Linked DNA regions of Homo sapiens: region 2 is linked to region 1. The links come from fine-mapping of genetic effects on gene expression. A gene starts in region 1. The other region holds a variant in brackets. All regions are shown on one strand. Distances are from middle to middle.

Region 1 (5,385 bases):
ACTAATTTAAAAGGAACCAGATAAAAATGTTTCCAAAAGCCATTAAAAATATTTAATAAGCTACCAGATTGCTTTGCTGGAAGAAATACATTATTTAACATCATGGATGCTCTATACAGTAGATTCTTTCAATAGCTAAGACACTTCTAAAGTAAGGTACCAATGGATGCAGATCAAGAAAAAGAGAGAAAAAAAACAGGAGACTGTTAGGAAACCAGGGAAAAGCAAATGTCATTTTACCCAGAAGAAACAAAAATACTGTTTCTATTTGTTTATAGCAGAAAAACTGTGCTGCAGAGAACATTATAAAAACACAAGCAAAGGGGTTGTTTGGCAAATAATAAAATGCAATGCTTACTGTGCATCCTCCATGAAGAGATCACTTATGGATTATAGATTAGTGTGATTAAAGGTACACTTTGATGCAAAAGATTATACTTTACCACATATATAATATGTAGCACTTTTCTACAAAGGGCAGTTTATGTAAGTAATAACTTCCACAAAGAGTGAGAGAAACATAGACAAAATGAGAAAGACAGAGGCAGGGTACAGTCAGACAGAAAGACAGAAATGCTGAGCCAAGGGGCTTGCTCATGTCCTGCAGAAGATTTGAGATATTCTTTTTCATCTCAGTGCTTAATTTTTCCTATTACTGCACACTAATACTCACATGCTATAATTATTTCATGAGCTAACCCTCTATACATCCTTCCCTTTAGTTTCTTCCATGAAAAAGAAAAAAAAAGAGAGAAACCTTTAGTCTCATACTTCATTTTACAGTCAACTATTCAAGTAAATATTTCTCTGATGGCAAATTTCCAGATGAATCTAGAATATGATCCAAAACCACTGTCAGATTACATTTGATTTACTATGTAGCTCTCTTCAAATGGAGCAAGAATTAGCCCGTTTCCTAGGTTTGGGTTCTTGTGCTTCCTGATCCTTCACACACATACAGGATGTGCACATTGTCTCAGACAGTCTTCGGAGGCCTAGCCGGAAAACGCTGTTGGAGAGGCTGTATATTACACAGTTACAAAAACTATTACTTATTGCAAGCCAGGTTGTTAAGAAGGACAGAGTTGGATTGTCCAAGACCCGGGAGCTTTCTAGAAGAAAGTAAATTATATAGGGGAGCCACAGCATATAAAATACACTGGTTATCCTAAACAAAACCATGGCGTAGCGACGGTCAGGGCTGTGTCCAGTCTCTCTGGAAGAATCTACCTCATGACTAGGGAATCGGGCTCTTCGGTCATTTATCTCTTTGGTGTGCTGACGGCAAATTTTGAAAATGTGGAAGTAAGTGAAGCAGACAACAAAGGCAGCAGGAGCATAAAGTAAACAAACAATAAAGCCAGTAAAATAGGCACTGGTGAGCCAAGACGTGGCACACCATTCAAAAATGTCACCATGGTAACCAGGTTTCCCCCAGCCAAAAAAGGAAGGCAAGAAAATTAGGCAGGAGTAGATCCAGATCAAAATAATGCAAATTCTCAAGCGACAAGGGGTGACCAGTTGATTGTAGGAAAGAGGCTTGGTTATTGCAAGATAACGATCCACACTGATGCAAGCAAGACATGCCATAGAAACACTTTTTAGAACTGAGATGATATATCCAAAAACCTGGCAAGTCAATGACTCGTGGACACCTGTGGAGTAGTGGAGAAGTGACAGAGTAGGAACCAAGCAGCTAACTCCAACGAAAAGATCAGCATATGCCATCGTCTGAATGAAATAGCTGGTAGTATAATGATGTAACAGTGGAGCACAATGAAAGACAAAGATAACTGTTAGATTCCCAGCAATGATCAGAAATGTCAGCAACACAATAACCACTGTCTCGAAGATGCAGACATCCACCACACTGTAGTGGCCAAATCCAAGTGGGCAGGAGTGACGCTCGGACACATTCACAATGCCACTGCTCATGTTCAGGATCCTCCATTCAGTCCACCTGGATTCATTCATGGCTTGGAAATTTAAAGACACCTGCAGACTTGGCTACAGCAAGCAGATGCCCTGCCCAGCATCTGTTAAACACCGCACATGAGTGTTTCAGAACCTGCTTCAGTAGACAGTGTCAGTGCTTCTGTCACAGCTGAGAGTCCCAGAGAGTGCTCAAGTCTCTTCACCAGCCTCAGTTCAGCAGTGACACACCTCAGCTTTCGGGCGGGGGGGTGGGGGGGGGGCGGTAAGGGGTGGAGAGAAGGGGATAAGCTAGAAAGGAGGTGAAAAGAGGTCACTAATTAGTTTCCTCTGGTGCCCTCAAAGAACTTTTTGCAGACATAAGGCACTTCTAGAGAAAATAGACTTCTTATTATCTTGCACTATGAAAAATTAAATCTGTAAAAAGAAAAAAAATGAATTGCCAAAGGAAGAAAAGCTTCTGTGGGCTGTTCTCCTAAGAGAGGCAGTTTCTTAGGGAGCAACTGGAAAGAATGAGAAAAGAAAAACTCTGAAACTGTCTCAGGCTTCCTGCTTTATCTATGATGAAAAATGCATTCATATTTTAGATTTTAAATAATTTAAGATCTCAAATTTGGTTGAAAAGCTAAGAAAAAGTTCATTGTGGCAAAGAGTGTCTTTGGGCTTAGTTCAGGGATTGATGTTGGGGGGTCAAATTTATAACCTATTTCTCATTTTTCTAAAATCTAAGAAAAACAACTCTATCAAAGTTAATTTGAAAAGATTCATCTCTACATGGGCAGAATAGAGGTAACAAACAGACTCCAGATTGCCCTATAACTCTCATGAGAAAAAAGTATTTTCCAATAGAAAAGAGAATATACAATGAATTAATGAATTAACACCTGGCAAAATGTAATAAACTTCTGAAGTTTTAATTCTGCATGCATTTTTAAAGCATTTAGATGAAAGCAGTTTTAATCCATTACAGTTACTGGTGGTACTAACAGCAACGTAACTTATACCTCTTCCTTTTCAAAATGAATTATTTTTGCTATTAATTTGGCATCTATAACTTAAAATAACATTTGTTATTTCATATACCACCTTCCTTATAATGGAGCATGATAATAAAATATGTAGCTCACAGTTATTTCTCACCTTTGCAACTGTATACCCATATCTCACATATATATGTAAATATAAAGTTAGACAATAAAACTTTCCAATATACTCCGAGCTTATTTGACCAGAAATGCTGCCATTATTTATTACTTAGGTATTTCTAATAGGCTTCATGTTCTATGTTGCTATACCTTTTCTATTTTCAGTAGATGATTTAACACATTAAATCATTACTTCAACTATATCTTCTGAAAGTGGAAAATTACCTTGTTTATTACATTTGCAGTTATGTAGCAGCCATATGTTAAAAAATGCCTCTTCTATTTTTCTGTACTCTATTTTGAGCAAGTGCTCAATTAACACAGGGGCCATTAGGTAGGTTGCAAGATAGTCTTATTTTAAAATACCTCTAAAGTATCAAGATGAACTTTAAATCCTAGAGTTTGAAACATTGCAAGGCTGCCAGGATAGAATCCATCCAAAATGCTTCCAAGGTCATTTTGATATCAGGTTAACATTTGCCAAAGTATTTTTTAAAAGTGAAGTCATTTCAGAGAGTCTCCTGTCATTCTTTGTTATCCTATCTTTTGAAGAAATAACATGCATTAGAAATAACATTTCCTCCAGGAACAATGCAGCAGCTTAACAGAAAGCATTCTTCTGAAAGTTATTTTCTGGTGCACCACCAAGTCATTCAGGCAAGTCCTTCTTCTTTTATAATAGCCATAGGATATTTCTTCTTCTACATTCCTAGTTTCACTTATCACAAAACAGTTCTCTTGTTACAGGAATAAGGTAATGCTTCTCACCTACATTCACTCTTATCAGCTGCTAGGCTGGGCTGCTTGATTCAGAAGTCCGATTTACTGTGATGCAGCTACAAGGATGCTGTCAGTATATTCTTCACAATCTCTCAGCATCAATGACTCCACCTGAGCCCAAGCCCTACTCCTCCTCCTCATCCTGGGCTGATGCAGAAAAACTCACCATCAGAAAGGTGACTCGGCCCTCCTGCCCCAATCAACAGCACAGCCAATGGCTACTGCAGCTGAAACTGTCACTAGGTAACAGTTGCCAGGCACATGCAGGCTTATAGACTTACTCGGCAAGCTCCGATCAAGACTGACAAAAGAAGACAATGGAACTGACCGATCTTTATAATATATTAAGGCATTTATGAACTTCTCAAGGTATTCTCCTTATAGCATTTGTAAAGATTATTTCGTATGGACAAGACAGAAAAAATAAACTGCCATACTCCTGTAAACCCTGTAAAGAAACTACCACAAGGTACTATGACACTAAAAAGTCAGCAGTAATCTAATGCTCATTGGCAGAAAAAACTTATTAATTATTAAAAATTTGCCAAGTCTTCATGAACTAAAGTGATATGACTACTAACTTCTCTCTAAAATATATAGTTACATTTTAATTAACAGAACTTAGAAATCATTTACTAATCTCTCCAATCCCCATCACCCCCACAAAAAATTGCTGAGTTTGATGTATTTAACTGTACAAACAAAGCAATAGAACTAACACTACTGTACCAAAATCTATTCAGAGCAATACTGAAGGTCAAATATGATCTCAAAAGAGCATAGAAATTAGAATAAATAAAAACATTGCTTATCCACTTTTTATCCTAATATGAAAAAAAAGGTCAAATGGTCAAAGAAATTTGTTCTAAGTGCTTGAGCTACACATACCTAAATTAGAACAATGCAAATTAATTTAATCAAATATTTGATGGACATTAAAACATTTCTGATTATTTTGACTTACTACAGACAAACATTCACTATTTTAAACTTCTTAGGGGATCAGCATTTTTCTTAAAAGTGACTTAGAACTAATTTACAAATTATGTCAGAATTAAAATACACCAGGAAAATTAAGATAAAAATGGAAGATAACTAACATTTGTTGAGTATTTTCTATATGCCAAGCATTGTGCTGTGTGCATTATATACTTTTCCTTTATAAAAATCTTAAAACTCTATGAAGTAGGTATCATCATTATCATTTTCCAAATGAAGAAAGCAGATAGTAGAGATAGTAAGTATAACTTGCCTATAATCACAGACTTGTGAAAATGGGACCGAAATAGGTTATTATTATTCTTAAAAGTCCTAAAAAACATAAAAAGATCAACAAAACAAAAACTTGATTTTTTGAAAAGATAAACAAAATCAACAAACCCTTAGCTAGACTAAGCAAAAAAGAAAGAAGACTCAAATAAATAAAATCAAAGATGAAAAGACATTACAATTGACTCCACAGAAATACAAAGGATCATTGGAGACTTGTGAAAAATATATATGCCAACAAACTGGAAAACCTAGAAAA
Region 2 (5,385 bases), 860 kb before region 1:
CCTTCCTCATTCTTCCCTCCTTCTTCTCTCCTCTTTTCTACTCTCCTGCTTCTCTCCTCTCTTCTACTCTCCTGCTTCTCTCCTCTCTTTGCATCTTTCTCTCTCTCTTTGCATCTTTCTCTCTCTCTTCCTTTCTCTTTCTTCCCTACCTTCCACCCACTTTGAGGAATCGTAAACACCAAATCCTCCAAACCCTCTGAATTTTATTTTGTCATTTTAACCTTTAACAGCCTTTTCAGGTAAAAACACCAATTTCATCTCACCCTTTGCTTTTACCATCAGAAAAGGTCACCAACGGGTGGTGGTCTCTGCTGCCCTAGCATTACCAGACAGGCCTTTTGTACAGTTTTGAGTCCTTGATCAGCCACAGAGACGGTGACTCACTGCCTACCTCCTTCCAGTCTCGTCTCCTGGCTCCCTCAACCCTGAAGTGCCCAGGGGTGGTCTGATCCCCAAGGCTCTAGTGCCATCTGTGGGTACTGCCAGAGAACATTTGACAGGCCCGGTGTGCTGAGCCAGCCTGCCCTCCACTCCGTCAGCTCCTCCACTGCCAGGTTCTGTTGCTCTGCCTGGGAGCAGCTCCAGCTAATGCACCATTAGCCACTGCCTCTCAGCTTTGGTCACTTGGAAAAACCTTTTCCCTTTCTGTCCCTTAAAAATGGACCCAGTGCATAATATAAGATCAACTCTCACCACTGGGTTACATTAAGTAAGACCCCAGTCAGGGAACAGCCCCAAAAAGAGAGTCGTGATGGGAGCTTCTTCCAGTCCAGTTCCAGGAGCACAGGCAGTCAGGAAGTGCAGAGATAACTGAGTAACGGTGTAGGGTAAGCACCGCAAACCCAGACATGCTCTCCCATGCTGGAGTGGGCAGGGGGATATTAGGAGCCTGTCTGGGGGAGGTAGTATGACAACAGAAATTATCCAAGGGAAAAAAAAGAGGTGGGAGGGAGCCTCATGAACCAGGGTCGGGGGCATGAAACGGCAGAGCCTGCTGGAACGGGGCCAGGTGTGGTTTAGTACTCATGTTTGCTTGAAGTTCAATAACAGAGCCAGGAACAGACTGGGCATTGTGAAGACCCAAGACCACAAAGGAGAGACCTTTCTCCATCTTCCATGTTAAAAGGGAGAAATAATGAGTGCTTTAAAGAAGGAACAGAATCCCAACCCTGGAAATAAATTTTTAAAAAGGCTTGACACCAGCAGGCTTCTTCACACCCCTGGGGCCATGTGTAAAACAGGGACAAAACTCCAGCCACATGGCCATCTACCATAGAAGGCACCCTCGCAAACAGAGCAGGCAAAGCACCTTTCCTAGCCCTTGCCCTGTGCCGCATTTCCTCTTTTTCTCCTCATTTCCTAAAAAAAAAAAAAATTCTGGAATGTCAGACCAAGGTGGCCCTTTAAAAACAGCCACATTTCCTGGTCCTGTTTTAAATAAGCCATTCTGGAAACCTATAGCTCAGGATTATGGGACTGGAGGAGTGACTGCTGTAATATTGAGATAAAAACCTGTCATTTGTCCTGTACGTTGTCTTGAAAATGAAAATGGAAACTAATGTGATACAGTGAAACTTAAAGGAACTTTAGTAATTAGTATTTATTCCTGAGGTTGCTGAATGCTAGCATTATGTTCTAACTTAAATGGGTATAATTCACCCATTGCTTAAGACCTCTGGGTGCATTTACAACCAACTGAACACAAATTTAATTATTGTTGTGTTATGGGAACGAAGAACTGCCAGGGGTAATATTAAAAGTGGATTATTAAGCAAGAGAAATGTTAGCAACATTAGTAATCAGTGCAATTACCCAGTAGCATCTTCTTGCCCGTAATACCCCCAGTGTCCCTGGGGATGTGTGCTTTAGCAGTGACCCCTTTGCCAGTCAGCAATAAGACATCACCACAAATTAGGGCCCTCTGGGCCTGTATCTTTCCACTCATGTGACATGTACAATATTCCCCATTGCCCAGTCTTTCAAATAATTATAAAAAGAGTATGCGTTGGACTTGTAAAGCTACACATAAACGAGTCTCTTGTTCCTCTTCACTCATCTCACCATCCACATTCAATAGTTACCTACTATATACCAGATCCAATACTGATTCTGGATATACAAAAAGATGAAAGGCCTGCACACCCTCTGCTTCTCCCAGAAGAGATTTGGTCTCTCTCTGTCTCTCTCTTTTTCACAGTTAAAAAAAATTCTTTTATTTAAACTTTAATACCAGTATGTATCAGTCAGGATTCTCCAGAGAAACAGAACCAATAGGGGATTTACATTATGTTTGCGTGTGTGTGTGTGTGTGTGTGTGTGTGTGTGTGTGTGTGTGTGTG[A/TGA]GAGAGAGAGAGAGAGAGAGAGAGAGACTTATGAGGAAATGACTTATGTGATTATGGAGACTAAGAAGTCCCACAGTCTGCTGTCTGCAAGCCACAGACTCAAGACACCTGGTCGTACAATTCAGTCCAATTCCAAAGGCCTGAGAATTAGAAAAGCCACTGTTGTAAATCCCACTCAAATCATTAAAGAAGGACAACATTTCAGCTTAATAGGTGGGCAGAAAGAAAACAAAAGGCAAATTCCTCTATCCTCAGCCTTTTTGTTCTATTCAGGTCCTCAATGGATTGGACGATGCCCACTCACATTAGGCAGAGCAATCTACTTTACTCAGTGCTCCAATTCAAATGCCAATCTCATCCAAAAACACCTTTGCAGACACACCCAGAAATAATGTTTAATCGGGGCACCCTGTGGTGCAGTCAAGTTGACACATAAAATAAACCATCACACAGTTGCAAGGCAGTAAACAAACCAGATGTGGTTCCTTTCCCAGAGACGTTCCTGCTGGTGGGGAAGTCATTCTCTAGAAAGAGATTCAGCAATCCATGGCCCGACGGCCAGACATTTATTCTCTTTTTGACTCTTTCCTTTTCCACCAGTTTTTACCAAACTCCCTACTCTCTTATTCAGATATTTCACACATATGTAAGGCTCCTTGCTTCAAAGTTTTTAAAATAGAATAAAGTAAAATTTCCAAACTTATGTTTATGTGTTCATGAGAAAATGGAAAGAGATACACAGTGAAAAAACTCAGTTAATTAGATGAGCGTTGTCATTTCAACACTGACAATATTTTTTTAAAACTCAGACACATTTCAAACACTTCTAACACTAAGAAAAGTGGCAATTAAGGAGGCTCTTGAATCCAAAAAGTTGACAGAACCTTCTAAAAAGAAACTGATTACTGTAGAATTTTCCCCGGGGGCAGGGGCCAGGGGCCAGTGGAAGGTATGGATCAACTTTTAGATGTTGATGCCCTTTAATGCTTTAAATAAAAATTGCTATCATCAGAGATCACTGCTAGGCATTCATTCACAGCTGTGCTCTTCATGACAAACAACAAGCTCTTCAGAGGTTTCTGGCAAATATGTGTAAATTATAAGAAATGCAGTAGCAATTATGAAAATTCAGTATGCTAGCTGTACAGGAAATTTAAAGATCCAAGATAAACAATGAAAACTGAGGAACGCATATATTATGCCTGCATGCCGGTAATACCTGGCTTGATTTGTGAGCCCACTCACTGTTTATGATTTCTCCCCCCACAAATAAAAACCACAAAGTAATAACCAAAGCTTGTATTTACAACCAAAGCTACACTGAAACGATTGGCAACAACAATAACAACCTGGGTTGCAATTAAAGGTAACCCAGTTGATTTATTGACTTGGAAAAGCAAGAGATGATTAAAGAAGTCAATGTGGAACGGCCTGCCCTCCTATCCTCCCCAACCCCCAACCAGTACCATTTAAAGAAATTGAGACATATTCACATAAATCTGGTTTTATCTTTCAACGAAATGACCTAATGTTAACTCGGTTTGAAATGTCCACGCTACAAAGCAGTGTTTCAATACAGCAGTACTATTGACATTTTGGTCAGATAATTCTTTGTTTTAGGGACCTGCCCTGTGCTTTTACCCACTAAATTCCAGTAGGACCCCCGCCTCCCACCATGTTGTAACAACCAAAAATGTCTCCAGACATTGCCAAATGTCCTCTGGGGGAAAAAAAATCACCCTCAGTTGAGAGCCACTGTTACAGGGAGATTTATCACAGAAAGAAGAGATAACTTCAATCCAGACTTCATGGAAGCAAATTTCAAAAAGCTTCAGGCTGGTTCATTTCAGCCCAAAAGACAAAAGGATCGCCCAAATGGAACATTGTTATAGCTTTTCTATTGAATTTGTCTTTATATAGTTTATAAATGTTTGAAAAGCTTATATCTGTGTTTTATTTTAGTTTCATTTTGTCGGAATTACTCTGGGTATTTTTGTGGTATGAGATTAGATTCCAAGGTAGAAAGTGGAATTGATAAAATGACACTTACAGAAAATGAGAGTTTGTCTTACAATGGTTCAGTTTGTCATGGCTCCCTAGGAATCATTTAGATTTCAAACCAAGAGTCACTTGTAAATTAGACCTTTGGCTCTGTTGCTTCACCTGATGGACAATAATAAATGGTATCGATTGTTTAAGATCCCCAAATACCTCACAATCTCATATGTCCTAAAGGTTTCTTAAGAAGAAAGAAATACAGGGTAATTAGGCACTAAAGATAGAAGGAAGAGAAGATTTTGTGCCACAATTCTACCTAAGAATGATATTCAGGTCCAGGATTGCAGTCAACAGAGCAAGGAAGGGCAGTATCACCACCCAAGCTCCCCAGGAGAATGTGAATATCTAAGTCGCATGCCTAAGGGAGTGTTCCATGATGTTAGGGAAAGCAAAGGGCTAACCAGCTGTAGTCTCAGCTTGTGGCAGAGGAAAACACCCTCAGCTAAACCCCTTTACCCAATTCATCCTCCCAGATAAGAAATCCAGTACACAGAAAGGAAGCGACTAGGGGCAGGGGAGGGTGGGGGCAGATGTTCACCTCTAGCTTTTTCAGAGATGTTTCAATGCTGATTTTTCTTTCCAATTGTCCTGGCCATGACTGTTGGGCTACATGGTCCAGTTTTGTTTTAAACAAATGTAGTCACCACAGTAGGTCTCTGTAATGGCATGTTAGTTGTGAAGGTCACCTGGGATCGGGTCAACATGTGAATGTGACTGGCATCAATGGTCCTCACATCTACTTCTCTTGGCCAGACAGACAGATCAGTTCAGTCTCTCAAGAAACGCTGATAAAGTCCCTTCCTGCAAGGGTGGACCTTACCACAGAGCTCACAGCAAAGAAGGACAATTCGAAGTTCACCTCTTGGTGCTAAAGGAGGTATGCTGCTCTCCGTCATGATCCTGTTTATCACAGGGTCTTCTTTCAGATCGAGAGCCAGTGAAGCATCCCCAAACAGGTCTCTCCTATTAGAGCCTGGCTGCAACCCAC

Alleles and levels. Alleles are on the strand shown, and positions count from the first base shown. SD is a standard deviation of normalised expression in the study named.
In carriers of allele A in region 2, the expression in monocytes of the gene that starts at base 2,122 in region 1 tends to be higher than with TGA alone (large effect, 1.5 SD a copy in BLUEPRINT).

The links. PIP is the estimated chance that this variant, and not a neighbour inherited with it, causes the effect.
Region 2: its variant is fine-mapped to the expression of GPR52 in monocytes (BLUEPRINT, PIP 0.95).

The regions. Positions count from the first base shown.
Region 1 is chr1:174,444,701-174,450,085 of GRCh38, reverse strand. GPR52 (G protein-coupled receptor 52) reads right to left here and starts at 2,122. Exons shown (of 1, transcript NM_005684.5): 1 at 541-2,122. The coding sequence starts at 1,974. The coding sequence ends at 889. All of the region lies in intron 13 of RABGAP1L (RAB GTPase activating protein 1 like), which reads right to left.
Region 2 is chr1:175,309,576-175,314,960 of GRCh38, reverse strand. The region is part of intron 1 of LOC105371623 (a long non-coding RNA gene); the gene reads right to left. Among named protein-coding and RNA genes, the nearest start is that of KIAA0040, 120 kb to the right of the region's middle. The variant A/TGA (reference allele first, on the strand shown) is at 2,340.